4 linked regions of the Homo sapiens genome follow. The protein of the gene in region 2 interacts with the protein of the main gene of each other region in a biochemical or structural test. Each region holds a gene or a part of one and is shown on either strand. Other genes may lie near its edges.

The links.
Region 1: the proteins of GRIP1 (region 2) and VDR form a complex in vitro, tested with the Homo sapiens proteins (one study listed by BioGRID).
Region 3: the proteins of GRIP1 (region 2) and GRM3 form a complex in vitro, tested with the Homo sapiens proteins (one study listed by BioGRID).
Region 4: the proteins of GRIP1 (region 2) and THRA form a complex in vitro, tested with the Homo sapiens proteins (2 studies listed by BioGRID).

What each region holds. Positions count from the first base shown.
Region 1 is NC_000012.12:47,894,975-47,901,999, reverse strand, and holds part of VDR (vitamin D3 receptor), read left to right. Parts: intron 1-289; exon of another isoform or gene 290-366; intron 367-2,041; exon of another isoform or gene 2,042-2,163; intron 2,164-7,025.
Region 2 is NC_000012.12:66,676,076-66,683,935, forward strand, and holds the start of GRIP1 (glutamate receptor-interacting protein 1), read right to left. Parts: upstream 3,002-7,860; 5' UTR 2,830-3,001; coding exon 2,775-2,829; intron 1-2,774. UniProt on the Homo sapiens protein: May play a role as a localized scaffold for the assembly of a multiprotein signaling complex and as mediator of the trafficking of its binding partners at specific subcellular location in neurons.
Region 3 is NC_000007.14:86,639,908-86,646,910, forward strand, and holds the start of GRM3 (metabotropic glutamate receptor 3 isoform 1 precursor), read left to right. Parts: upstream 1-4,001; 5' UTR 4,002-4,965; intron 4,966-7,003. UniProt on the Homo sapiens protein: G-protein coupled receptor for glutamate. Ligand binding causes a conformation change that triggers signaling via guanine nucleotide-binding proteins (G proteins) and modulates the activity of down-stream effectors.
Region 4 is NC_000017.11:40,072,941-40,079,965, forward strand, and holds part of THRA (thyroid hormone receptor alpha), read left to right. Parts: exon of another isoform or gene 1-728; intron 729-1,251; 5' UTR 1,252-1,548; coding exon 1,549-1,601; intron 1,602-3,930; coding exon 3,931-3,998; intron 3,999-4,567; coding exon 4,568-4,668; intron 4,669-7,025.

The sequences.
Region 1 (7,025 bases), about 19 Mb from region 2:
CGACACCCTAGCCTGCTCCCTGGTGTTATCAGCCAATTCTCGTCTTTTCCCTGGGGCGGCACTGCTCCCGGCCACCCTGTCCTGGGACCCAGCCCACCACTCGTGTGACTTCCCTTCACCCTTGACTTGTGACTGGCCTCACCTTTGGTTTTCCTGCCCCACCCCAACCTCAGACAGGGACAGGAAGGTCTGCCAACTCCTCTTCAGCTTCCCCTGGGGAAATTGGGGTTCATAGTGGAGCCAAGACTGGGCCTCACGTTTCCTCTTCCCTCTTCCTCCATATCTACAGCCTCCACATTTTGCTCATCCAGCTTCCCAGACCTCTGGGGACCACACTATCCCACAGAAAGTCTGGCTGTAAAGCAGGTAAGCAGCCAGGAAGGCAAGGGTAGGCAAACCTCGCCCACTCTGATAAAGGACATAGGTCACCTATAATCAGGTTCCGGGGAAATGAAAAGCAAAGTGGAGGCCAAAGCCAGGGAGAAGCTGCATTGCAGGAGACAGAGTCAGTTCCCAAAGACACTAGAGTTTGCCTCTTTGGTCTGGTCTGACTATTGGGGAAATGGTCCAGGGTGGGGAGAGGCTGTTCTTGCTCAATCCAAGTGACAGGCGTTGATGGCAGTGCCTGCATCCCGCTGTGGCGACATGTGGAAGAGAAACTGTCCTGCCTTCTGGGTCCTGGGTCCTCATGGTCCAGATGCAAAGGGTGGGATCCCCAGAGGTCCAGCCTGTGGGTGATCGGGCATAGGCGTGGAGGGAGCAGAGCCGCCACGATGACCATGTAGTGACTCTCAGTTACTCTGCCAGGAAGGAAGTCATTCTCACTGCCAACAAATGAAAAGTGCAAGTGAAGATCTCTTGGGAAGTCATGTCTTTGAAGTGACTTGTGGGCAAGGGGGGTAGGTGGTGAGACCGCCCCACCCCAAGGCTGGCTGGGAGAGGATGGGGGTGTCTGGTTGGTGAATAGCAGGAGTGGAAGGCAGAAGCAGTCAGTACTCTGTGAGTTGGAATGTGTGTCATGCTTTTGCAAACCTGCCCTGCAGGTCCTGTGCCAGGGAATAGACTAAGTGGTGTTCCCAGAACCAGATGCCATACAAAGTCCTCATTCTGCACAGGGGAGAGTCCTGGTCCTAAGCAGGGTGTGGGCAGCTGCACCGGCGGGAAAGCGGAGTCTGTGCAGACTCGGCAGTTGGTTCCTGAGAAGCTGCTGCCTCTCACTGGCCTTCTGATGACAACCTGGAGCTTGGAGGTGTTATGCAAGGTGGGACATTCCAGGCACTGTGGAATACCCATGAGGCCCGAGGCTTTGCTGGTGACACATCCAGTGTGTGCCACCTGCTGGTACTGGAGTTGTAGCTTCAGCTACTTACTGAGCACTCACTTGGTAACAGGTGCTGTGCTACGTGCCTCCCAGACCTATCACTAGGTCTTGTGAGGTAGGAACCAGTTATGTTCCCTTTACAAATGAGGAAATGGAGTCTCTGTGAGGTTAATCAACATGCCAAGCTGTCATAGCCTGTGAGGAGGAAACCCACGACTCCCTCTCAGGTTTGCAGAAGCCCATGCTCTTAACCTGCATGGAACTCTCCCACCTCTGCATTCATGGGATGGCCACAGGGCACTTAGTGCCCTGTCTTGTACATTATACACCCGCAGTAAATGTTTATGAGCTGAGAGGTTAGATGTACTAACTAGTTTGAACAAGTTGACCTGAGAACAGGCTTGGACTGCCCAAAGGTTACTCTGGGGACAGTGGCCTCTCAGAAGGAGGCTCCCTCTGCCAGCACTTTTAGATCTTCATGCCTCTCTGGCAGTCTTGGGCACCTTACTCTGGTTAAGAACAAGAACCCAACAGAGGTAGGATTGTGCAGAGAAATTGTGTGGAATCAAATATGACTCTAATAGTCTGGAAGGCAAATAGGAAACAATCTTTCAAACAGGCATCTTTATTGAAAACCTACTATGTGCTGATTGTCCCATTGGCCAATGGGGAGCTATTCTCACTTTGCCTACCTTTTCCCTCTCCTGGCTATCCCTTAAGGGCTCCTGAACCTAGCCCAGCTGGACGGAGAAATGGACTCTAGCCTCCTCTGATAGCCTCATGCCAGGCCCCGTGCACATTGCTTTGCTTGCCTCCCTCAATCCTCATAGCTTCTCTTTGGGGTAAGTACAGTTATGTTCTCTAGCAGGCATAGTGGGGAAACCAAGGTCTAAAGAGATGCAGCCACCTGCCCAAGGCTGCAGAGTCAGCCTGTAACCACTGCTTTACACGGCTTGCCAGCCCTGGGCCTGGCCATACAAACCGCTTTGTCAGAGCCTGGAGACAGAGGTCGCAGGAAGAGAAAATGCTCAGCCTGCCCCACCCCCTGTGGGTCTCAGGGTTCCTTGGTAGATGACTAAAATTTTAGGTAGTGCTGTTAGAAGCTAGTGGCCTGGCAGAACAGGAGAAACACAGGGTCTGAGTTAGACTCTTGGGTTCAAATCTTGGCGAGGTCGCTTTGTAGCTTGTGACCTTGGGCAAGTTATTTAATCTGTCCAAATCTCAGTGTCCTTACCTGTAAACTGGGTATAGTAATAGCTCCCTTGTAGGACTGTGTGAGGATTAGATGATGTAAGTCAAGTGCCTGGCACACAGTAGGCCCTTGAAAGGCATGTGTATTCAGTAGATATGGGCCAAGAGCCTACGGTGTGCCAGGTACTAGTCAAGACACTGGGAATTTAACAGTGGGGAAAAAAGAGACTCTTGCACTTCTTTTCAAAATTTCTAGCCCAGAAGCCTGTCCTTGTGAGAGGCCCGTTTAGAACTCAGGAATGGCTGTCCTGGCACCTGACTAAACTCAGATTTGGCAAATTGGTTTCTCTGTCATTTGTTAGCTGATGAGCTTGTGAAGGTTACTTAGCTTCTCTGCAACTTGGGTTCTTCAATTCTTTTTTGTTCATTTTTAAAAACCGCGATATATCACATACACAAGATTATATGTTTATGTATAGATTAAAGAATCCTATACCCTGTACCTACCACCTAAGTTAAGAGTGGAGCATTCACAGCACCTTAAAAGCCCCCTCTGCCTCTCCCCATTTGCATTCCCCTTCCTTACTCCCCACCCCAAAGTGAATTTTGGTTAATTGTTTCCTTGCTTTTCTTTGTAAGTTATCATCTATGTAGATTTTACAAAACACTATGTTGTTTCATTTCACATGGCTTTGAAGTTCGCATACCTGTGTGTTCTCTGTGATGCACTCTTCTTTGAGTCAATATGAGTTTTCTGAGGTTCATCCATGTCGATGCACACCACTGCAGTTCATGAGTTTGCACTGCTGTGTAGAATTCCATTGGAAAAATACACCACGATTTGTATATCCTCCTCTCACTGATGGACATTTGGGTTGTTTCCAGTTGAGCTATTACGATAGGACAGTACTGCTAGGGGTGTACATGTTATACTTGTCTTCTGGTTCATGAGAAACTCACAAGAATTTCTGTAGGGCACATACCTAGGGTTGGAATTGCTGCCTCCCATGGAATTCTATGTTCAGCATTGCTATAGGGTGCCAAACAGCTTTCCAAAGTGGTTGTCCCAAAAAACACTTCCAGCAGTGGATGAAAGTCTCCATTGTTCTCCATCCTTTTCAACACTTGATACAGGCTTCATTTCTAAAATGAAAAAGTTGCATTAGATGAGTTTCTACAGTTATAATGATTAGCTATAATAGTTGTATTATTCATGACCTAGGGACCCAATTTCTGGCTCATGTGTGTGCCTGTCTGCTGCACTCTGTACAGGTGACCACATACATGTCACAGCCTGAGACATGTCTCAGAGAGAGCTCTGTGCTGGGCCTCTAAGTACAGTTGAAGCCCTTCCTCTCTGGGCTTCCACCAGCAGTGCTTGAGGGATCCCACGGTTCTACATCCTCCCAAACACTTGGTGGTCTCCTCAGTTCAACCAAGAGCCTGGTGTCAGCAGTGAGCCCATACTATGTGCTCAATTAATACCTGGGGAGGAATATATATTTTCCTTGGGCATCAGTTTTGAGAAAAGGACATGGAAGTATAAGAACCATGAGTTTGCTGGCTAATCAAAGCACACAGGGCTGGGGCAGTGATGGATTCATGTCTGTCCTGGGCTTCTTGATCATTTAAGGGCTCCAGTGAGATGGGGTGAAGTTTAGTAGTCTCTACTGGCCATCTCTTCAGAGTCTGGCCTTGTTCTTTGGCCTTTTGACTTGTTTAACCTGAGAAGCAAGGGGTAGCTGGAGGATTGGAGTGGAGGGAACAGAGGCGATGCCATGGGGAAAGGAGCCAAATGCCTGTAGAGAATCCCTTTCCCTTTGAAGGTCGAATACCCTGCTAGGACTACTGGGGAAAAGAGGTGTTAACTACACTCACCATCCTGGTAGCCACATAAACAGCCAGATATTCACCACCCATCCACCCATGGGACAAAGGAATGTGGCTGGCTGGACAGTTGCATGGGCCACCTCAGCTCTCAACTTTGTAATTACCTATCCAGTCTGTGCCTGTCAGCTCCGGGCAGGCAGGTGCTTCTGCCCTGGGCCTCACTTTGGCTCCCAGGCCTGTGCTGGGATCAGGGACAGGGCTCTACCTTCTCCAGCCATCCCCTCACCCCAATTCCACCCAGTGTCTCTTTCTATACCAACCTTTGACCCTTGTGAGGTTACCATATTATGTAATAGCTGACAATCATAATAACCAATGGTTACTATAACTCACTATGTTCCAGGTACTATGTTCAGTGCTTTTCATGCATTTTCTCATTTATGCCTCTCAATAATCCTACGAGGCTGGTAAAATTATACCCATTTTATAGAAGAGGAAACCAAGGTTCATAGAGATTAAGAGGCTAAATTCCTTGCCCAAAGACATTGAGCTACTAAATCAGAACCAGAATTTAAATTCAGGCTTAAGTCCAGAGTGCATGTTCTCTTCCTCACTTGTGCATTGCCTTTCCTGCAGTGTCCTGGTCATTCAGCTCAGTCTTCCCTCCTCCCCTTCCTGTCTAGGAGGGCTGGAAAAAACGCAGCAGGTGGTACGAGGGTGAATGGGGCAGTTCCAATCTGGCCAGGGAGATGCTGGAAAACACCTTCGGGGCAGAGTTCTTTGTTCCAAACGGCTCTGAATTTCCGGACTTCTGCCAGGGGCAGGAAGTGACTTCTGCCCAGCCTCTTTGGCAAGCACACCCATATCTTGGGTGCCATGATGTTAAGAAGTGGGGGAGGGGCTGCCTCAGGTAAAATTCCATTATAATGAACTCCATTTGAGGTCTGACCGGCTTTGTTGAAACCACGTGCACAGCCTGGGAAACTGGAAATGGAGTGGAACTAATTCGAGGTTGGGTGTCTTTTAGCAAAGCCCCCCGAAGGTTTGGAGCCTAGAAGGAGAAGGAGAAAAGAGTCAGACCCACCCCCAGGTCCTCCTGAATGCCAAGCTCCTGCGTGGTCCTGGGCAGGGCTTGTGGGGAGAGCTCTGTGCGTAACTCCACCTGTCAGTGCTGTCATCGTCCATTCCCCCCACTCTACTCCGAGCCCCGAGAACAGATCTGAATCCTGTCTCTGAAGTGCCCCTGCTCCACACAATAACTAACATGTCACAGATATACTCACTAGATGGTTTTGTCTGTAGACCAGGTGCCTGAGCAAGAAAGGAGGGTTGAAGGGCAATTGCTTTGTGTCATTAAATCATCTTCAAAAACTGGGCTGCAACTCAGATGAATTCTCCTTAGTCATTGCAGTAATTGTGCGCAATAATAAGCACTAACGTTTACTGAGCAGGTACTACGTGCCAGGCACTATGCTGAGCACTTGACGTGATTATCTCATGGACTCCTCACAGACTATGCAGTAGGTGGTGTTATTTTTCTCATTTCACAGGTGAGGAAGCAGAAGCTTAGAGAGTGCATTTCATTGGTTCTTGTTGCACAGCTAGTGGTAGGGAGAATTCAGGGTTGGGCACACCCAGGCCAGCTGCCTCCAGAGCCTGCACTTCTAACCGTGAGCTCTGCTGTCAGTGTGTGCTGGTCAGGGGGCCAGGGCCAGGTGGGTCATGAGTGAGGCTGGAGGGATGCAGACCCGGTGAGATGGACTGGAGAGCACACGCTGGTTGATGGGAGCAGCCCCTCTCGGCCCAGCAGGCTTCCGGCAGGAGCTTCAGCCTGGTGTGGCCAGATTATCTGACTTTTTCATAGAAAGCTGGACATTCAGATTTTTTTTCAAAAATGTAAACTCTTGATTTCTAAAACATTGACAGCCAATTTAAAAAAAATGAAATGTGTAATCACTGTTGGTGTTGGGGAAGGACGGGTGGCAAACAGCAAACATCACAGTCAGGTCTGCCCTGCAGGCTCCACTGCATCCTCTGGTAGTTTTTTTTTAACAGGTAACTGTTATAGAGTGGGATAGGAAAAACCCTGTTCCTGTAGAATTCCTTACTAACGTACTAGAAGGTACCCCTCCCAGAATGTGATAATAGCTTTATAATACAGAGTGTTTCTTCCTTGTGAGTTAGAAAGAAAGCTTTCAGAGTAAGATATTCCAAGAATACCTTCCCCTCCTTTCCTTTCTCCCCTCCTCCTTCTCTCCCTCCCATACTCTGTCTTCTCAGGAAGGTATTTCCTCATAGGTATTAGAAGAAAAGTTGTGTGAGAAAAATCAAAAGGAAACTAACAGAGGATAGGGTCTTAAGGCACAAAAAAAAGGAGAAAGTTTGGGGATGGGCTTGGTAGACAACGAATGAATGGATCATGCTCCATGCAATCGTTCAAGGTGTTTTTTCACAGCCTTCCCCTTTTTACCTGAATTTATTCCTCCTCCTCTCCTATTCTTAAATGCCTGGAAAAATAATAGTAATGCAATAGCTAGTATTTTTATAGAGTGTAATTTTAGAGTGTAACAATTTTTATAACACATTTGAAATATTTATCTCAGCTGACACAACAGTCTTATAGAATCTCCTTTTGGAGGCTTGGTAAAGTCGCAGTGTTTTCTCCTTCTTCCTTGCATTCTGT
Region 2 (7,860 bases):
TTAAAATTACATCTGACCTAAAGAAAAAATATTTATTGTTCAATAATATATTCATTTTAAAAATGCTTTTTACACCTATAAATTGTCCCAGCCCAGAATTCTAAGTGCAAAAATGTCAGTGTCTGGCACATAGTAGGTACTTAATCGATATTTGTTAAGTATGTATTAGATATATGAAGAATGTAAGAATCAAGTAAAAATATCAAGAATGTGGGTGTTTGTAGAAAATTGTTTCCCTTTTATTCCATCATTTTCTCCTTAAGAAAATTAAGAAGAAATTGCAATTGCCATATTGCTTTTTCTTGTGGGTGATATCAACCACAAATAGCAAGGTAGTTTTGGAGTCATGAAGCAAACTTCCCCCTGCTAAGATCTGGGTAAGGTTTTAGCCACAAGAGGCCTAATAAAGCTCTTGAAGCATTTCCTAAGAGCTCACAGAAGATTTAAATGCCCTACTACTTTCAACTAGACAAATCCAATTCATTTTAACAAACAGTTTTGAAGTGCCTACTAAGTGTAATGCCTTGTGCTAAATGTCTGGAAGAGTGAGTGTTAGGTGGAGCCCTCAATGGGTATAAAGAAATATGTATGTTTGGGAGTTGAGGGTGAGGGTGTGGGAGTTGTGTGAGTAGGGAGAATGGGACAAGAAAGAAACTTCAAGTGTATATCCACCCCTGTCCCCAAATACACTCCTGACCCTAAAAGAAAGGTCATTTTAATATTGTAATTACATATGTTTCCTGGTTTTATCATTACAGCTTAAGAAAACAGCACCACAAGTATGGGTGGGGTGCTAGAACTCAATGAATCCACTTTGGAACAAGAAGCATGGGTGGAACTTGAACGTTGTTGGACAAGACTGAAGCAGATGGCAAGGCAAGGTACCGTGTTACTCAGGTGCATTCTTGTAAGTATTTGGACAGCCAGTTAAACACAAAGAAGAACCCAATTATGGCAAATTGATTCTGCAAAGAGATTTTATTTTAATCATCAACTGACAGTCTTAAGTTAAATACCAAATAGAGCAGACATAAAGATTTTGGAAAAAAGTGTGAGGTAGCAACTCCAAAGCAGTTATCAATACTTTCCTCAATTATCTAGATTTTTAGCGACTATCTTAGTAAACACTTAAATCTCCTTTCAATGCAGGAGATCAATGCTTCCATAAAATTCAGAAAACTGAGAAAGTTAAAAATATTTGTAAGAACTATAAATTGCTTGGGTTCACTCTCTTCCTTGTATGTAGTACTTATAAAAGAACTGATACAGATGAATAGAAAATACTGATTGTTTCATGTTTATGATGTAAGAAGACCATCAACTTCTCAACATCAAGATAAGTAAATGCCAAAATCAGGTCAGAAAAGAACTTTTCAGAATAAGGGCCTGCCTTTAAAAGTCTCAGCCAAAACCGTAACAGAAAGGATAGTCTCTTAGTCATGATTTATAAACAGAAATTGTACGTCTGTACCAATTGTAGAGGATAAAGTCAAAACAGAATTTACAGCCTCCTGCTAATAGCCTAATTTAAAATGTATAATCTTCCCTACATTTCCCCCAAAGTACCTTTTAAAGGACTCACTCTGCTATCCAAACAACTTGCAAATGCATTCGGTAAGTTGGTCTACAGTATTTATTCTCTTTCCTGTTATTGACTCAAGATCTATTTCTCATGATTTGCTTTGTGCTCATTCTTCTGCCAGATAAAATATTAATTGCATTTTTAGCTGCACTGCTGGTGATCAAAGAATTCTGATATGTCAAGCTAAACTGACAGAAATAGCATCCATTAACATATTTATAGGTTCAGAGCTTCTAGAACATAATTATATCCATTAATTACTCAACAGTACTCTATATTACAGGCTGAAAAAGAAAGGCATTTGCAACTAAATACTTTTACTCAGAATGAAGTTTTTTTTTAAATAATAAATTTTCTCTAAGGAAGGTTCTATCTAAAGGAAATAAGGCAAGAGAGCTCACATATCTATATGGACACAAGGCAGGATTTTTAAGGCATCCATTTACTAACTTTGCAATAGAATGCTCACAAAGTAAACGAGATGGCACATCCAGAATGGTTTCAAATAAAATAATACCTTAAATATTACAGAGAAATTTAATTACTATTTTAGAGTTCTAAGAGTGACAATCTGAAGCTGGTAATTCTTGATGATAAGATTCCGAGCAATGATTTTTACTTTCAAATAAACTTCTAGTATTACATAGGACCAAAGCATTTGGAATTACATACTTTTCTGAACATGCAATTCTAACACATAAAGAAATTAAAGCTGTCCAGGGAAAAAGCTCTTAAGATGTTGGAAAGTCATAGAACAAACAATTATTCTGTGGATCCACCAGCTGTGCGAGTCCTGAATCTGCCAGCTGCATTTAGTATATGTATCATAGAAAGGACAGTAACACACACTTGACTCCTTTTGGCCAGTTAATCAGCATGCAAAATGACGGTTTCCCACAATAACTTCAGCACCGGACCCAAACACATTCTCTTTTCAGCAAAGAATGAAGTCATTAAAAAAAAAATCACACAAGCTGCTTTCATAATTTCAGCACGAACACAACCGAGATGTAAGGACAGAAAGCAAAGCCGAGTCTACCTGTACATATGTATCTATACATATTTCACTGAGTTCTTTGTTGCCTGACAATAAATTGCAAAGGCAGTCATATTTGAAAGTAAAAACCATTAAACTGTGTTTATAGGATACTGCAACAGACTCGCTGAGGGAATAACAAGGAAAGCACGATACCTTTAGTAAGTCGCCTCAGAATTTGACAACGGCATTTAAAAGAGACAGCTATCATTCTTGCTCACTGCTTTCTGTGGCAAAGTGTACTCAAGGCTCTCTGCTCTGGTGGCTGCAGCAGCAGCAGCATATGAATTCCTTGCGCACATACCAGGAGAAAGGTAGTCCCAGTGGGGAGTGACAAAGCTTAATTCCTCTTGGCTGATGCAGAGGTCCGCTACATGTCATCTGGCAAATCTGTGTCATTCACTACTACTACCACCCCTGCCTGCCACAGCCTCCTCCCCCTTCACAATCACAATGGCTTAGAAAGTAATGCCGTTTCGATAGCAACAAAGCACCAAATTGTACAAAGCAGGGACGACACTGTGTGAGGAGCCATTCCATAAATCTAACGCTAAGCACTGAACAGTGCATTCTGTTTAAGGCAAAAGGCGATGTATCCAGTCAGTTCAGCCACCATCAGCCCCTTTCCTTCTCAGCATCAAGTCAGTGTCCTTTATATGTCTCATTTAATGGGAAATGCAAGTGAAATGCTTACACTCTTACTTTAGGAAGAAATGCATGGGTCATGTACTATGTTCTTTAAACAACAACCAAAAAAAAAAAAAAAAAAAAGGAAAGAAAAAGAGGGAGGGCCGTTTATATTTGGGATTGAGGAAAGAATCACAGTTCTGCCTATAGCGGGGAAGCAGCTCTAGGACAGAGACCTCTTTGGTACTTCCTGAACCTATGAGAGTTAAGGCAGTGTCTGTTTATAGAGGGAATACAAGAAAGGGTTAGGGCTAGGCAGACAATCAGGCAGATGGAGTCCCAGCCCCTTTAATCACCCTTCCAAAAAAGGACTTGGCTGGAAAGCAACACAGTCAAGACTGTTTCTAAAGATACCAGAAATAAAGGCAAACAAGGCCAAGTATTTCTATTTTTAATATACTTTATTATACTATTTCCCAAACAACCATCCCCCAAACCATTCTTCTCATTATGCAAATAAAACGGTCTTGCGACATAGCAGATATTTGTGAGTATCTGCTCCAATGGAGTGAAGAGCAAATTAACAAACCCTTCACAATCCATTCACAAAGTGATAAGAAGGCGGAGCACACCTCCTCATCTGCCAGCAGCAGCCTGCTCGCCATATAGTCAATACGAACTAACATTTGGTAGGGAATTTTAATCAAAATCCAGAATTCTCCCACAGGAGTTAACATAAACATTCAGGACAAAAAATTAGACAGTTGGCCAGGAAGTTTAAGAAAAAAAAAATCAATTAGTCAAAATGAAAAGATATATCACTGTCTAAACTACTTGATTAATATTTCTAGGACTTTATGAATTATTCATACAGTTTTATTCTCTACTCTTCAGGCTGTGAAAAAACTTTCAAGCTGGTTTTTAAAATAACTTCCAACATTCCAAATTTAGTGGTAAAACTTTCTTTTCTTCATTCATAAATTCAATATGAACTCAAACAATTTCAATCCACTGCTATTGAAATGCATATGCTTTGTATTTTGAGTCCAATAGAAAAATAATTTGTGTGTGAAAAACATCTGAATATCATAAGCATCTACTTTAAAGGTTTTTGAAAAGAACAGAATTCTTTTACCAAGGATGGTCTAGCTAAAGCAACCACTAATCAATAGAAAATACTATATTAAATGGACTGCAGTGCAAAATCAAATTTTTATAATTGTTCTGATTAGCATAAATCTTTCTTTGAATTTCAACCCATATTATGTTCATCTCTATTAGGTTATCCCTAGAAATAGTTTAGCCTCCTTGATATTTTTTTGCTTTAAATAGAAATATACCTTAGTACTAGAGAACTGAGTTACTAGCTAAAGTGAGATAAATACTTACAGTTAGCTCTTTCCAAGATTCTTCTCCAAATCTAACATATTTCCTAAAATCCAGGCACTCAGAATACGCAGCTGTCAATTACTATTAGTAGAATCTTGCCTGTGGAACACCACCACCCCAGCCCAGTCTATTCAAATACAACTCAAAACCATACAGGAATCTCTTGCCTTCTGCTATTTTGCAGACTCAAATCCAATTTGCTTTTTCCTTATGACTAAAATGATCAAATATTTTCCCCTTTTCCTAATATGCTTATTTTTTTTGTTTTGTTTTAAAAGCTCTATCCTCTGGTCCCAAGAAAGGTCTTCAGAACTACTAAAATGTCCTATTTCTTTGGCAGGGGAAATAACCCATCATGGAGCTCTTTGAAAGGTTTCTGAGAGCCCAAACTAGGGGATTGTTTTTTCTCTCTTTGAATACTGTGGCTGCCAATCCATATCTATCCTATTAGTCTGCCCAGGTGCAGCCCCAGGAATCTTACAGAAATGGAGCCTCCTGGAGTAATTCTTTTCCAGAAAATGAACGAATTCACCAGGTATTCCCATCTTCTTCCATTTCTGGCCTCGCTAATGCTTGGAGATTTCCTGGGGAGCCACTCCCAGGTCAACCTTCTTGCCCTAAACCCTTTGTCCTCCCTTTGCCTAATGCAAGCTTAGCCTCCCATCCTGAACTCTAGCACTGGTAAAATGCCTTCCAACAATGCAAGCCTTCTATCTCAAAATGTATCGATCTGTAGGATGAAGGTCTCAAATGGCCAAGGCAACCGGTGGAATGTGGACCACAGGCTCCTAACATGAGCTACTACAAGGCAGAGTGACCTACATTTCTTGGCTACCAGATCAATGTAAGCATGTGTCTTTGGGACCTGTCATGAACATGTTAATTATGGTGGCTCAGCTGTCTAGACAGTTCAAACTTTACAACATGCTCTGTGAGGGTCACCAAGTAGGGGTTATGGAAAAAGAAGGCAGGTAAAATTGTACAAAATACAGATTTGATTAAGCCCCAATGTGATCTGAAGAAGAGTGAGTGAGCTAGTTCAAGAGGTTTACCCCTCTTAAAAACACAAACACCTCAATACATGAAAACATGGGTTTGCTGGATTCAGGGCAGACTAGTCCCTTAAGATGATAATTCTTATTTCAGGGTTTCTTTAAAACATTAGTTTTGCTAAGGTGTAATACAAGTGTACCACGTTTACATAGAATTTAATGAATTAGAAGGCACTTTCACACATAATGTATCATGGAGCGACTCTGTTATAGGTTTTTGATGCAGAAAAGGAAAACTGGTTTCAGAGAAGGTGTTTTTCATCAAAGTCATTCAGCTAGTAAGTGGTAAAGAACAGGAAAGAACCATAGCTTCTCACCCCTGGCTAATCATTCTTTCTCCTCTTGTTTTTCACTGCTTCCTTGCCACCAATACAAAATGTGATCTAGTTTACAGGGGGACAAATTCAATTAACAAAGTACCTTTAAGTGCAGTTATCTTTTGACAGAGGGAAAAACTAGTGCCTATCACCTTCTCCCCTCTGAAGCACAGCTCATGGTTCTAGGACCACCCTGACCAGAAGGAACCAGAAACAGGTGACAGTTAAGGCAAGTACCGTCTGGTGAAAGACCATTACGTATCAAGTGTTTACAGGAATCCCTTCTCACTGCATGGTTAGCCCATCCTGACTGGCCTGTGTCATGCTGGTTTTGAAATATTTGGAATATCACCTCCATTGACAATATGGTACTAATTTTATCATAAGAAGGGGGTGGGTTGTGGTGTATGGACAAACAAAACCTTAAGATTGGCTCAAAGATTCCAATATAGTCTCAAAACCAAAGCATTCCACAGCTTCATCAGCAGGTGGCACACATAGCCCCATAATCTTATTCTAATTTTCTCATTTCCTTGATTCTCCGCCATTGTATTCATTCTTTTATATAACATCTCCATCCCAAAAATAAATAGCGCTGTTTGGAGGTTCTTCTGATTCTTAACAAGAAAGAATCATCATAAACCAAAAATGTTCTGCCATATGCCTAAACCTGGAAATTCATTTTGCAAAAAACCAAAACAATGAGGTTAATCCCACAAATACTCAACTATTTTATATCATTAGAATCAATTTGATTAAAGTGCTAAAATAATTTGCACTTTCTTCAACTTCATAAATCTTTCTGTTACAAAATATACCTGATAGATCCCATTTATTTGCTTATTCATTTAACTATTACATTTCTTTTCCTTTGCATGCTGTTGCTTAAAAATGCTTAACATGCTTAGCTCACTATTTAAACAGCATGGAACATCCTGACTTGGCTAGTATTGAATATACTGATCCCCACACCCCCTACCCTGCAACACATACACAGTTATTAAATGTTGTGTATTTCCCAAATCTTCCGGGTATTTTAAAACTCAGTGTTCTCGGAGGTCTTAAAATGCGACTCTCACCCACTTTTTCATCTCCTTACAGACAACGTCACTGACTCATTCTTAGCTTATTATAATCGGCCATTTTTACTTCCCTTTTCAAAGATGCCAAAAGCAACCATGAGCTCAAACATGTTATAATTCTTGTGACCACTGTCTGCTACTTAGTTCAACTAGTGTGTCAACATGAGACCAAACATTAGGGTCAGACAAGGGAGATGTACACTGAACAGAACTCGCCAGTAATGAGCTGTCATGAAGGACTATTAAAAAAGCAAGACCCAATTTGCTGACACAGGTTCTAAGGGTGTGAAAAGTTGGTGTAATTGCCCAAGACAGAATTTATCAGGCATTTTTTAAAGCAAATATTTTATGAGAAAACATTTTTATAGAAGTAATGATGCCCTTTAGGAAGTGTCATTAGGACATACTCTTGCAAATCTGGGGTGATTAAAAAGCACTTAGTAGCTCAGGGCCTCTGGTGTGTTGTGATATAAAAGGGTGGGTATAATGCACACTTCATGTGTCATTTGCTTATCTAGGCAGGGCTCTGATGCCCGTAACAGTGCCAAGGAAAGAAGGTTGCCTCCACTGAACATGAAGAGACCAGGAAAGCTCCTGTGAAGGTAACAACCTTAGAAATTCATCAGCTAAAAGCATCTGGTGGAAAATGTTAAAGATAGAATATGTAGAAATTGAGAAATGCTTGTACAAGAGGAAAAATCTACCAGAAATCATCCTCCTAAGAGCCTAGGTATGTCCAACTGTTTATGGAGGTATTATGTAGGAGAGAATGGTG
Region 3 (7,003 bases), on a different chromosome or scaffold from region 2:
AGGCCACTGACTACCCTACCCAAAGCCTCTGGTTGTCTGCATTTCTCCTTCAGCCTTCTACTACCACCCTTTATGTGAATTATAAAATGGTGGCACCTCCAGGTTGATGAAGTATAGACAGGTGCCCTCCCACCATGTTGATACAGCCCTATGCACAAGCCTGGGCAAGCAGCTCCTTCTCACCTCTCAGCCAGGAGCCTTTGTGCAGACCACAACCTACAAGGTGACATTACCACAGCCCTGTGCCCTTCACAGACTGTCTACTGGAATCACAGATTCTCCACCAAGTACTTCTGGGTAGGGGCTAAGAAAACACGTCTCCTGCTCTGTGCTCACTCTACCCAAATAGAGTACACAGGAAACCCATCCCTTTTGCCTGACATAAGGGCAAGTGCAGTCACTTGCCCTATTTTATTTTAGTCCTCTGAAAGACAGATTCAGACACAGTGTTTTATATTTCTCTGCTGTGAAGCAGTTCACTACATCACCCTAACTCCAACGGAACATAGCAATGGTTTTCCTATAGCAGCAGCACACTTCATTAGAGTTGAAGCAAGGAGAAAGTATATAAACCCTCACCCTGGGCTTGCATATTTAAAAGAACACCAAAAACTCTCTATGCTTGTATTCCCTACCTTTCTTTTAACTCTCTTATATTCCACATGGATTAGGGATACTCCACTCGAATCCAGCACAGGGGGTGTGACAACTCTTACTTTGGAATATGGAGTAATTGGCTCCTCTTTGCATGGAGGCTTCAGTCAAAAGCAAGACTAGAATACATTTATTTTTATATATTGCAACAGTAATTAAAATAAGAATTTACAGATGTTCTAAGGAGAAACGTATTTTTGAAAGAAGTTGAAAAGTGAATGAGGGATGCTTATTAGCAAATTAAAGAGAATTTTAGTATTATATATTTACAAGGACATATGTACTTTAAGTCCCCAGAATAGATCAGTCAATCCTATTCTTTAAAAAATTATACAGAGGAATTTACAGTCACAGGGCAGATGAAGCAAGTAAAGGCTGAAGCAAGAGGTATGGCCAGATGACTAGAAGGTTTAGGTAGCCATATAATTTAATGCCCAAACCTGACACTTTGAGAAATAAAATGAAGACTATGAATACATTCAGACAACAGATGTAAACCAGAACTGTTCTGCATAAATTGGATGCCTGATTACCCTATGTGACCAAAATAACAGTTCATTCCTGACTGGTAGTAGAAGGCAACAATGAAATTGATCTCTGAAGAAAAACAGAGGTTTGCTTCAAAGAGAACAGTGCATTTCTGACTGGTAGTAGAAACCAACAAAGAAATTGATCTCTGAAGCAAAATGGAGGTTTGCTTCAAAGAGAATGCTAGTGAGAGTAAACTATGGATCAGCATGGGGACATGGAAGCCATTTTATTTGTAATTAATGATGACAGTACTTCCATTTTCAACGTTTATTCTGGATGAAAGATGGGACACTTTACAGGCCATATTTATTTGTTTTTTGTTTTTGTTTGAGGTGGAGTTTCACTCTTATTGCCCAGGCTGGAGTGCAGTGGTGTGATCTTGGCTCACTGCAACCTCTACCTCCTGGGTTCAAGTGATTCTCCTGCCTCAGCCTCCCTAGTAGCTGGGATTACAGGCACCCACCACATGTTCAGCTAATTTTTTGTATTTTTAGTAGAGAGGGGTTTTCACCATGTTTGCCAGGCTGGTCTCAACCTCCTGGCCTCAGGTGATCCACCCACCTCAGCTTCCCAAAGTGTTGGGATTACAGGCGTAAGCCACCGCCCCCAGCCTACAGGCCATATTTAAAAAATCACTGTAAAGAAGTCCAAGTGTTAATGGTAAAGACTCCTAAGAAAAAACATCATGATTTAGTTACTCAAACAAATATAGATGAATTAGTGAAATTTAGATAAACTAATAAAAATATGAGCTACAAGGAGTGATCTAGATGCCCAAATACATGTGTTTCACTTGAAAAATATTTGAGAAACTTGATACATCAGATGTAATTAAGAAAAGGAACTAGGATTGTTTAGAAATGGAGCCCAGCTAGAATACTTGGGGAGGGTGTGAAGAGAGGGATAATGTAATCTCTTAATTGACATGTTACTTAGTCAGAGGTTTTTATTTAGACCTATCCCTTGAGGCTTTTAAAAGTAACTCGAAAACACACACACACACACACACACACACACACACACACACACACACCAACAAATAAACATTAAAAGCCAATCTATATTCCCGATCAATGACGAATTTAAACAGTGAAGACTAATTGCTTTCAATTAAATATGCTCAACAATTAAAATACCATCAGTTAACTATTATATAAACCAGGGATTTTTAATAGTAACTAATATTTATATGCTTCTTACATGGATTTACTAATCCTCAAAATAATTCTGAGGTATGAGCAATTGTTATTCCCATTTTACAGATGATGAAACTGACATATAGGCAGGTTAAGAAACTTGCCCAAGTTCACGCAGCTAGGAAGTGATGAAAATTCAGGATTCACATTGAGGAATTCCTTTGTGTGTATGGCGTAACGTGGGAGAGGAAAGAAGTGTCTCATCAGGCAATATCTGATAACAGACTGATAATTTGCCTCAGCATTTCAGCCTCTACTCACCACAAGCCTTAGTTAACAGCTAGATACAGACTATGGAGTGCAGTTTATCAGCACTTTCCGTTGTGCAAACATCAGCTACTTTTGTGTGTGTGAGACAAAAACATCAGCTCTCTTCTACTTCTCTCAATCCCAGCTAATTCTGATAAGGTCTTGGAAGCGCAAAATGATGTCTTCTGGAACGTTCTGAAAGAGACCAAAATCTACCCACACAGCTTCATGAGGATCTGAAGCCTTGCAGTGTATAAATCTTTATCTTTCTCATGTTCATGTCATTGCCCCTTGATATACAGTTGTCTATTGGGCAGACATTGTTAAAAGTAAATAAATTCTTAAAATTAAAATTAAATTCCTATAAAGATCTTTTTTTGGTGAACAATTCATGCTGGAAAATACTAATGAAACACAAAGGAAGAGGAATTTTGCTTGTACGTGGTCAATGCTATTGCATTCCAGAAAGAATACGTTGAAAGGGGGACTTCTAAAATTTTAGCATTTCACTATATAATAACACTTTATTTTTTAATATATTCAAATTTCTGGATCTAGTGGAGTTCACAATGAAATATATATATATATATATATATATATATATATATGCACATGTGTCTTTTAAATATTGCTGTCCCTCTAAAAGAATCAGTAGGTAAAATTATTTCTGTAGTTTAAAAGTTCTGGCTAGGTTACAAAAGACAGCAATTGTTAAACAACTTAACATTAAATATTAAAGACTAAATGTAGCATTTAAAGCATTAAGTTTAATTGTGTCTGGCTTCATATAATTCAGTCCTTGGTTAATACAAAGTTAGTATATTAGAGTACAAAAATTAATGAAGTTTCAATTTGGAAATTAAACAGTATGTGTTTCTAGACATAGAAAGATGCCTGGAATTTTACCTTTAGGATTTTATCTGTAGCTGGCAGCCTATTAAAGCTGTTTCCGCGTGCCTTTTTCTCTTTTGTGCCTACGTCACCGATTTAAGGTTCCTATTTATTTATTTATTTTTAAGAAGAAAGAAGAGGTTCTGTAGGAAACATTGACTGTATCCGACAACCATAGCAGGACTAGAGAAGGACCAATGAGGGGGTGCTGGGGGTAGCTTTAAGAGGCGAGGTGGTAGCAGAAAAGGATAAGAAGAAAGATAATTCAGCAGTCCCCTATAATCTTATTCCACCCAAGAAATTTGGGAGAATGCGAAAAAGCAGCAGCCCAGCATTCCCGGATGGGCGTGGCTTTTCTCCAGGGGCTGTCCAATTGAATTCCTTCAGAGGGAGAAGATTGATAAGGGTTGCTAGGAAACAGGAGCGTCTGCCTCCCGCCTGACCCAGAGATTGTTCTGCACAAACCCTCTCCAGGGGCTCGCAGTGTGCAGTTGAGTCGCGAGTACGGCTGAGCTGCGTACCGGCCTCCCTGGCTCTCACACTCCCTCTCTGCTCCCGCTCTCCTAATCTCCTCTGGCATGCGGTCAGCCCCCTGCCCAGGGACCACAGGAGAGTTCTTGTAAGGACTGTTAGTCCCTGCTTACCTGAAAGCCAAGCGCTCTAGCAGAGCTTTAAAGTTGGAGCCGCCACCCTCCCTACCGCCCCATGCCCCTTCACCCCACTCCGAAATTCACCGACCTTTGCATGCACTGCCTAAGGATTTCAGAGTGAGGCAAAGCAGTCGGCAAATCTACCCTGGCTTTTCGTATAAAAATCCTCTCGTCTAGGTACCCTGGCTCACTGAAGACTCTGCAGATATACCCTTATAAGAGGGAGGGTGGGGGAGGGAAAAGAACGAGAGAGGGAGGAAAGAATGAAAAGGAGAGGATGCCAGGAGGTCCGTGCTTCTGCCAAGAGTCCCAATTAGATGCGACGGCTTCAGCCTGGTCAAGGTGAAGGAAAGTTGCTTCCGCGCCTAGGAAGTGGGTTTGCCTGATAAGAGAAGGAGGAGGGGACTCGGCTGGGAAGAGCTCCCCTCCCCTCCGCGGAAGACCACTGGGTCCCCTCTTTCCCCAACCTCCTCCCTCTCTTCTACTCCACCCCTCCGTTTTCCCACTCCCCACTGACTCGGATGCCTGGATGTTCTGCCACCGGGCAGTGGTCCAGCGTGCAGCCGGGAGGGGGCAGGGGCAGGGGGCACTGTGACAGGAAGCTGCGCGCACAAGTTGGCCATTTCGAGGGCAAAATAAGTTCTCCCTTGGATTTGGAAAGGACAAAGCCAGTAAGCTACCTCTTTTGTGTCGGATGAGGAGGACCAACCATGAGCCAGAGCCCGGGTGCAGGCTCACCGCCGCCGCTGCCACCGCGGTCAGCTCCAGTTCCTGCCAGGAGTTGTCGGTGCGAGGTAAGGGTCCCAGAGGAGGACGTGTCCCTCTGGAGGGCGCCCAGCCAGGGCGCGGAAGCTCGGGTGCCGCGTGGGGCAGGCGCAGCCGGGAAAGTTGAGGTAGAGCATGGACCAGTCCCTACAGTCCTGACTGGAGTGGGAAGGGTGGAGGGCAGAGGCGATGTGGGTGTGCATGAGTGAGAGTTTGTGTGTGTGCGCCCACGTCTGTGTCTGGGAGGAGGGAGATTTCAGGGCATAGATCTGCGGCCAGGGTGCGAGAGGTGAAGGGACGAACTAGCACTCGCAGACCCCAGAGAGACCAGTCTCATCAGCCAACCACCTCCATCTCAGCTCTGGGCTCAGAATTTGTTTCTATTTGGGGGCTCCCTAAGGCTTTGTGCACAGGAATCCGTGGATACGGGCGGTTTCATGTGGGTGTGGAGGTTGCAGGCAGAGGTGGGCAACGGTCAGCGAGACCTGGTCCATGCAGCCCAGATAAGCTCCGAAGCCGGAGGCGGCCAGAGGTTTGCCCTCCCGCAAGCAGGGTTGGAAAGGAGCCTTAACTCACTGCCCTTTGCTCCTTTTGGCTTGAGTGAAAAATCGAAAAGCCAGACAGGGAGCATATCTTTTCATCGACCCTGTTCCATTTTCTTATCTGACAGTGAGATAACTCAGAGAGGGCGGGAGATTTGCGATCCAAAAATAGACTAGGTGATATATCCAATAAGCTTGTTTCTTAAGGATTTCATTTAAATTTCTTTCTAGTTATTCCTTGGGTTATCAAAGGTGGACAATTCTCTAAGGTACAACACTTTTAGGTAAATATATTAAGGAAGGATTCTCCCACTTTAAGTATTTTAGATATTGTAAATTTTGAAAAACAAAACTATACACCTCTAAAGATCTTTGGTTAAGGACTCAACTAATTTGCTTATAAAAATATTTCTACTATTTGAATAGTAATAGATATGTTTGGGGTCTATATGTAGGTACATATTGGAATATTCAAAGTTGAGGTTAATGTGAGTTGAGGTAGGTGTGAGTTAAGTACCAACAATAGTTCCTTAGAGTTTCTTTGCTTGAATTTCTTAGAACTGTCCAGCACAGCTACAGTATGTTTCTTTGTGGTGGGCGGGGGGGTGGGGGTGGGGGGGTGGGGGGGGGTGGGAGGGAGTTTAGGGGGTGGAGTCTGCTTTGGTTTATCTGATCACACACTTTAAGATTCCTCTCTGAATTCTAATTGTTTGCAGAAGTATATTCAATATAGGCATTACTAAAGTAATCTAGATTGCCACTATGCTAAACTATGGATAACAGTTCCTAACAAAGATGCTTAGGACACTCTAATGAATAAATATGATTCTATATTCCTACGTACCTTGTTTCTAAAATCAGCCCAATAGAATTTGAATATATTTGGAAGCTATTGTATGCCAGAAATTATTGTAATACTTTTCCTTTCACAATGGGTAGTGTTTTATATTTACAAAGATTTCTTACACCTGTAGACTTTAGCTGTCAATCTTATTGGGTTTTGATCACCCAGCAGGAGTACATAGATATTTTGAATATACATGCCCAAAGGCTATCTTATGTTCAGAGTAACACAGGAGCTCAGGATGGAAAATGAGGAAAGGAAGTCTTGAAACCTATACCTTAACAAATAAAACAATGAAATTCCAGAATATCTACCTTTATTAGATGAAAAAGAATATGGCAACAATACCTTTTAGCATTGAAACCCCTCCTGCCCCTAGATACTATATATCTAGGTATAAAACTGTGGTTTTATGAGTTAGGCCCTTACCAGTGAAATGTGAAACCTAAATCATAGAAAATTATGCCAGTACAATGAATAGGCCACACTTTGGAGCTTGAAACAGATGTCTTTCTATTTATTTAAATTGAATGGTATTTTTCAAACTTCAGGAATATATGATCAGTAACAAGAAAATGTGTGGAAAGCCACACACACAAAAAAATCTTATAATTAAAATATACTCTGTGACCTACTTATTTTTGCACAATGGGCTTTTTAAAAAGTTGTGGTATACATGTG
Region 4 (7,025 bases), on a different chromosome or scaffold from region 2:
GGGGTGGGTATCAGAGGTAGAACGGGCCACTTTTCTGTGCAATGCCCATGCTCTCCACACTACCAGCTTGCCTGGGTGCAGAGGCCCCGTTCTGCTGCTGGCCCTGCCCAATCCCCTGACTTATCTCCCTCTCTCTTCCCACCCTGGCTGCTTATCAGCTCCTGGGGGTGGGGCCAGGGGGCCTAGGGGTGAGGTCTCCTATGCAGCAGCCACGTGACAGAGGTTGAGGTCGTATGTTGGGGAGCTGTACCCTTTGTCCCCCTCCTACCCGCCACACCTGCCTGTGTGCACACAGACAGTAAGCCACAGGTCTGCAGCCCAGGGTCAGAGGTGCAATGCCGTAGGAATGGTGGGCCCGGCTTGGCACTGCCCTGGACTCCAGGTAGCAGAACAAGGCTAGCATTAGGGCCAGGCTGTGAGGCTTATCCCACAGCCACCTGCTTACTAGTTGTGTGAACTTGAGTGAATGACCAAGCTTTCTGAGACTCAGTTTCCTCATCTGTGAAGTTCTCGTGCCCTCTTTGGAGGGTACAGATTCTCTCTCCAGTTAATATGTGTTAGTTTCCTTTCCTTTCCCCCTTGCCATCCTGGTCGATAGCAGCTCAGCTAAACCAACTGAGAAGTCTGGTCCTCTGCCTGGGAAGTGGGATTCGAGACCTTGCGTGGGAAGCTCTGGAGTCCCTGAGGGGCCAGAGTTGGGGATCATAACTTGGCTGGCAGCATGGGAGGTCAGTTCCCTACAGCTTTCAACATCTCTCTCTATTAAGGCACAAAGATGGGCATTCATGCTCACTGCGTGCCGCTCTATGTCCCATCCTTCCTTCACAGATACCCTCCCTGCCTATGCTGAAAACTGCTTGTCTCTGGTCCCCTCTTGCCCCTATAATACAGATGAGTTTCAGGAAAGCTTTTCTAGAGGGGTGGTAACAATAGCTAGTGTTTAATAGTTGCTCATTAAGGGCCAGGCATTTGTCTGAATATGAAGACTGAGACATATTACTTAGTACATGAATGATCTCATTCTCTCCCTCCATTCCTTCCCATGTCTGGGGCTTAGGAGGTGGATCTCCAATCTCGCCTGCTGTACCTGTTATCTAAGGGATCATCCTGGTCCCCTCTCTATGCCTGCCCTTCCTGCCCCCTGCTGTCTTGTTATGGGATCCCAAAGCCCCAAATGTTGCCACCAAAGGGATCCTACCCACCTTCCTACCGTGACACCTTCTTACCCCTGCCTCTCTCTTCTCTCCACAGGGATCTCTGGACAGGACAAGACTCCGAAGCTACTCCCCCAGCACACAGCCCGGGACCCACAAACCCAGCTTGCCCCCAGCCCTCCCACCTGCCACTCCCTGGCCCCTCCCACCGCCCGCCCCCCTTGGGGCGCAGGGCATGGTGTGAAAGGCCAAGTGCTGAGGCGGGTATCATGGGTGCTGTGCCCTAGGGCCTGGGTGGCAGGGGGTGGGTGGCCTGTGGGTGTGCCGGGGGGGCCAGTGTGCCCACCCCAGTCTCTTGGCGTGCTGGAGGGCATCCTGGATGGAATTGAAGTGAATGGAACAGAAGCCAAGCAAGGTGGAGTGTGGGTCAGACCCAGAGGAGAACAGGTAATGGGTTCAGCAACTAGGTCATGCCAACTCCTAAGCAGCAGGCATGGGCACCTGGCTGAGCTCTCCTTTAGGCACCGCCTTTAAGCACCTCTGTGGGATGGACGTGAGGCCAGCAAGCCTTCTGCCTACCTTTGTCTGGCAGATGAAGTCATGTTCAGATGTGACAGGCACTTGGATTGAGAGATGCTCATTTTGAAGCGGGGAGCGATACAGAGCAATTACAGGGAGCACATAAGGGGCTCTTCCCTAGACATTGCTGGGCAGTCTCAGATGCCCCCAACGTCCCTTCCACCATTGCTGCCCTTACCTTGAGCATGTGGGATCCAAACAGCCTTGCCATTTTCTTCCTCTCCCTACCAGCCCATTTACTATCTGACCACAAGTGTGTTGTCCACAAGCTGCGGTTCACGTAATACATTTCAGGGCACATGCACCAGTAACTATTGGTCATAGCCCAAGCTTATATTCGGAATCTATTGGGAGCCCCACAAGCTCTTCCTTGTTCATGGTCAAGGGCGGGCACTGCGATGGGGCTCCTCCCAGAAAGTGCACGCCAACCATGATGGTTTTGCTTCCACATGGGTGAGGTGTCAGCCCTGCACATACACCAAGGGATGGTTACCTGTGATCTGCATTGCCCTTGAGGAGCCCAGAGGGTCTCTGTCTTTTCTATCAGCTCCAAGTGGCACAGAGCTTTGTCCCAGTTGGCACGGTGCCCTGGGAGCTGGGTACAGCCTGTGCCTATGGCCAGGGAGAGGGTGGGGGTGGGGGTGCTCCGGGGAGCAGTGTGGCTGACTGTTGCCTAGGAGATCAGATCCCGAGCCAGGAAGCCAGAGGCCTGGCCAGGCAAAGCCCTAAGGCCCACAACTGGGTCCCTGGAGGGTAGAGGAAGTAGATGGAACTCACAGCTGGGCAGGGCATGGGGTAGCTCCCCTCCCCCAAAGCCTCACCCCAGGAAGGACTCTGAGGACGATCTGGCCTGTCGCTGTGTGGCTGTCACTTGCAGCCCCTGTGTCTCCCAGCTTAGGCTTCTGTGGGTCTGGAAGAGTCTGTGCTTAATGTTTGGAGAAAGGCAGGAATGCCAGTTCCCAGTCTCCTAAGACTGCAACCCCTCCCCCATCACCTTCCCCTCCCCCATGTCTATGCGCCACCTTGTGGCTATCTCTAGGACTACACTCAGAGGCTGTGAGTCTGGTGGTAACTGCTGAAGCCGCTAGCTCAACTGGGGCCTAGGTGGGCTGAGTTCCCCTGCACCCAACCCTCTGGGAGGCGTGAGGGAGACCTGACCTTTCAGCCTCATAGGAAGTAGACCGGAGTAATCCCCACGGGGCGTGGAGCATAGGGTTGTCTGTGACTGTGACCCTGGCCAAGGTCACTGTGTCAGTGTGTTGGGAGCTGCATCCGGCTCCAGGAGGAAGGGGCCTGCAACATGCCACACGCAGGGTGGGTGCGGGAGGTTATACAATCCTTGCATGCATGTAGAGGGCTTATGTAACCTGTGTGCACCGAGGTTATGCAACATGTATGTGGAGAGCCTGGCAACATATATGTGCAGTGGCTGAGGGTTGCTAATAATACGCTGCACAGAGGGGCTCAGTCCCGGCTCTGACTCTAGCTCATGGTGTCACCAGGCACAAGCAGGGTCTCAGTTTGCTGCTCTGTTAAATGGAGGCTGTGCAGAGGGTGTAGTGTTTTCTATTGCTGTGGGTTATTTAGCATGTGTGTATGACCTGGAGCTCAAGCAACACGTGCACACTGGAGGGATGAGGGTGGTTTTATGAGGTGCCTGTGCAGAGTGTTGTGTAACACATGGGCATATCCTAGAGGTTGTATAGCACATTTAAGAATGCCCTGAAAATTTCACAGGTATGTTGGCCCTGGTGCATACTCACCATCCATGGGTTTATAGTGAAGGTTGCATGGTTATTCATCTGTGCCGGTGTTATGTTGCATATGTATGTGTGTGTTCTAAAGGCTACATAGCTTTAAGCATATCCTGAGAATTCTTCCAGCGTATTCGTCATGTACTGAAAGATGAGGATGTCCTGCAGATTATGGGTGCTTCAGGTCTTCTGGCGGGTGAATGTGTGTGTGTTGGGGCTCTAGAATATGCTTGTGCCACAGCCAAGCCCCTTATCTCTCTCCCCTGCAACTTCCAGATAACTGGACCCTTTTAAGCATTGTCAGCTGACCCTGGGGGGTGGGAGGTAGAATGAGGACACAAAATGGAAAGAATCAGGCCTTGGGGGATTGCATAAGCCTCTCGGATGAGAAAGGGGCTACTCGAAGACTGCTCTGTGATTCTGCCCACTTTGCCTCCATCCAGTGCCAGGTCACCAGATGGAAAGCGAAAAAGAAAGAACGGCCAATGTTCCCTGAAAACCAGCATGTCAGGTGAGGCTGGCTGTGCGTGCCCCTTCTCCACGTCCCCAACCCCACCAAACCCAGCCAGGGCTCCTCTGGACCTGGATGTGGAACAGTAATTCATGTGTTCCCTGGGGGGAGCCTCCTAGAGGGCTTGGGATGGACTTGTCTGGGGGTGAGAAAGGTAATGTGGGATGTGCCCAGCTTTTGAGGGTGGATTAGGTCAGGACGGCCTCTTCCCTCTTCCCCTAATACCCTCATCTGAGGCCCTACCAGAATCAGGGCCTGAGCTGAAGGACTGAGGGGCTGTATTATCCCCAGTGAGCAGCTGACGTTTATTTTTCCCTCTCCACCATCCTCTGCCTTGTAGATAGATCAAGAAGAAAGCCCTGAATGGGCAGTCAGAAGAACTGAGATTCTTCATACTCTTAGGGCAGAGATGGACAGGTTCACCTCGTGTCTCTCTAGGATTCTACCAGGGAGGCTGGGCTAGGAGAGGGGTCAGAAACAAAAAGTTGAGGGATGGGGAAAAGTGTGAGAGCCTCTCTGCTGGGACTCCAAGCCATGCCTGCCTTCCTCCATCCTTTCCTTCCTCCCAGGGTATATCCCTAGTTACCTGGACAAAGACGAGCAGTGTGTCGTGTGTGGGGACAAGGCAACTGGTTATCACTACCGCTGTATCACTTGTGAGGGCTGCAAGGTATGGAAGCTACCTCCTGCCCCTCCCCTGCCACCTGAGCCCCCATATTACTCCCTATGTCACCTAAAGCCCGCCTGTTAGGTCATCACTTTTTTTTTTTTTCTTTGAGACGGAGTCTCACTCTTGTCCCCCAGGCTGGAGTGCAGTGGCGCGATCATGGCTCACTGCAACCTCCGCCTTCAGGTTCAAGTGATTCCCCTACCTCGGCCTCCTGAGTAGCTGGGATTACAGGTATGCACCTCCACACCCAGCTAGTTTTTTTGTATTTTTAGTAGAGACGGGGTTTCACTATGTGGCCAGGCTGGTCTCGAACTCCTGACCTCAGGTGACCACCCGTCTCAGCCTCCTGAAGTGCTGGGATTACAGGCATACCTGCCTGGTTACTTTCTCTTCTCTTCTCTTATTCATTCATTTACTCATTCATAACTCCTCCTCTGCCACTCACAGGAAAATTGCCTAACTTCTTCGAGCCTTAGTTTCAGTTTCTTCATCTATAAAATGAGGATAATCATTCTCTCTACCTTATAGCATTGTTGGGAGAATTAAATATGTTGGGAGATAGTTCACTTGAAGTGTTTAAAACAGTGCCATTGGGTGCTGTGGCTCATGCCTAAAATCCCAGCCCTTTGGGAGGGAGGCCAAGGCGGGAGCATCCCTTGATCCCAGGAGTTTGAGACCAGCCTAGCTAACACAGTGAGACACTGTCTCTACAAAATTAAAGAAATTAGCTGGGTGTGGTGCCACATGCCTGTGGTCCCAGCTACTCAGGAGGCTGAGGTGGGAGACTGCTTGAACCCAGAAGGTCAGGGCTGCATTGAACGGTGGTGGCGCCACTGCACTCCGGCCTGGGTGACAGAGCAAGATTCTGTCTCAAAGTAAAATAATAAAATAAAATAAAAAATAGTGCCATGTGCATAAGAAGCATTTGATAAATGCCAGCCATCACCCATTCATTCAGTGTATTCTTAGGTGTGAGAGTGTAGTACGTACCTCGCCTTCAAGCTGCTCACAGCCTGTCAGAGAGAGAGACACAACTTGAAACAAACATCAGTGTTATTCAAAATGTGGTTCATGGACCACCTGTCCTACTAGTTAAAATGCAGATTCCCAGCCTTCATCTTTTTTTTTTTTTTTTTTTTTTGAGATGGCATCTCGCTCTGTTGCCCAGGTTGGAGTGCAATGGTGTGATCTCGGCTCACTGCAACCTTCGCCTCCCGGGTTCAAGCGATTCTCCTGCTTCAGCCTCCTGAGTGGCTGGGACTACAGGCACCTGCCACCACGCCCAGCTAACTTTTATATTTTTAATAGAGACAGGGTTTCACCATGTTGACCAGGATGGTCTTGATCTCTTGACCTCGTGATCCGCCCGCCTTGGCCTCCCAAAGTGCTGGGGTTACAGGTGTGAGCCACTGCGCCCAGCCTGCCCAGGCTTCATCTTAACCCTGCTCACTCAGAGCCCTTTTGTGGAGCCCAGGAATCTTCCTTTTAACAGAATCCCGGAGTGTTTCCCATGCACCTGAAAGAGCGAGAGCCAGTACTGGGGGGGTAGTGGGAGCTGGGAGCACAGAGGAGAAGAGGACAGCAGGTTCTTCCAGGCAGAGGGGATGACAAGGTCATAGATTTTGGGAGGCCTAATTGTTTTGTTTTGTTTTTTTTGAGATGGAGTCTCGCTCTGTTGCCCAGCCTGGAGTGCAGTGGTGCAATCTTGGCTCACTGCAACCTCCACCTCTCGGGTTCAAGCAATTCTCCCTGCTTCAGCATTGGTAGCTGGGATTACAGACACCTGCCACCAAGCCTGGCTAATTTTTGTATTTTTAGTAGAGATAGGGTTTCACCATGTTAGCCAGGCTGGTCTCGAACTCCTGACCTCAGGTGATCTGCCTGCCTCTGCATCCCAAAGTGCTTAAGAGGCCTAATTAGATTTCACTTTGATCATTTCAGCCTGGATAGCCTTTCCAGGATCACCTCCTAAAAATGCAAGGCCTTCCAAGAAACAGAATTATTTAAATCCCAGCACTTTGGGAGTCCAAGGCAGGCAGATCACCTGAGGTTACCACACCCGGTGGCACTGTTTTAAACACTTCAAGTGAATTGTCTCATTTAATTCTCCCAACAGTGCTATAAGGTAGATAAAATGATTATCCCCATTTTATAGATGAAGAAACTGAGACTCAGAGAAGTTAGGCAATTTTCTTGTGAGTGACAGAGGAGGGATTATGAATGAGCAAATGAACGAATGAGTAAGGTCAGGAATTTGAGACCATCCTGGCCAACATGGTAAAAGCCTGTCTCTACTAAAAATACCAAAATTGGCCAGGTGTAGTGATGTACGCCTGTAATCCCACCTACTTGGGAGG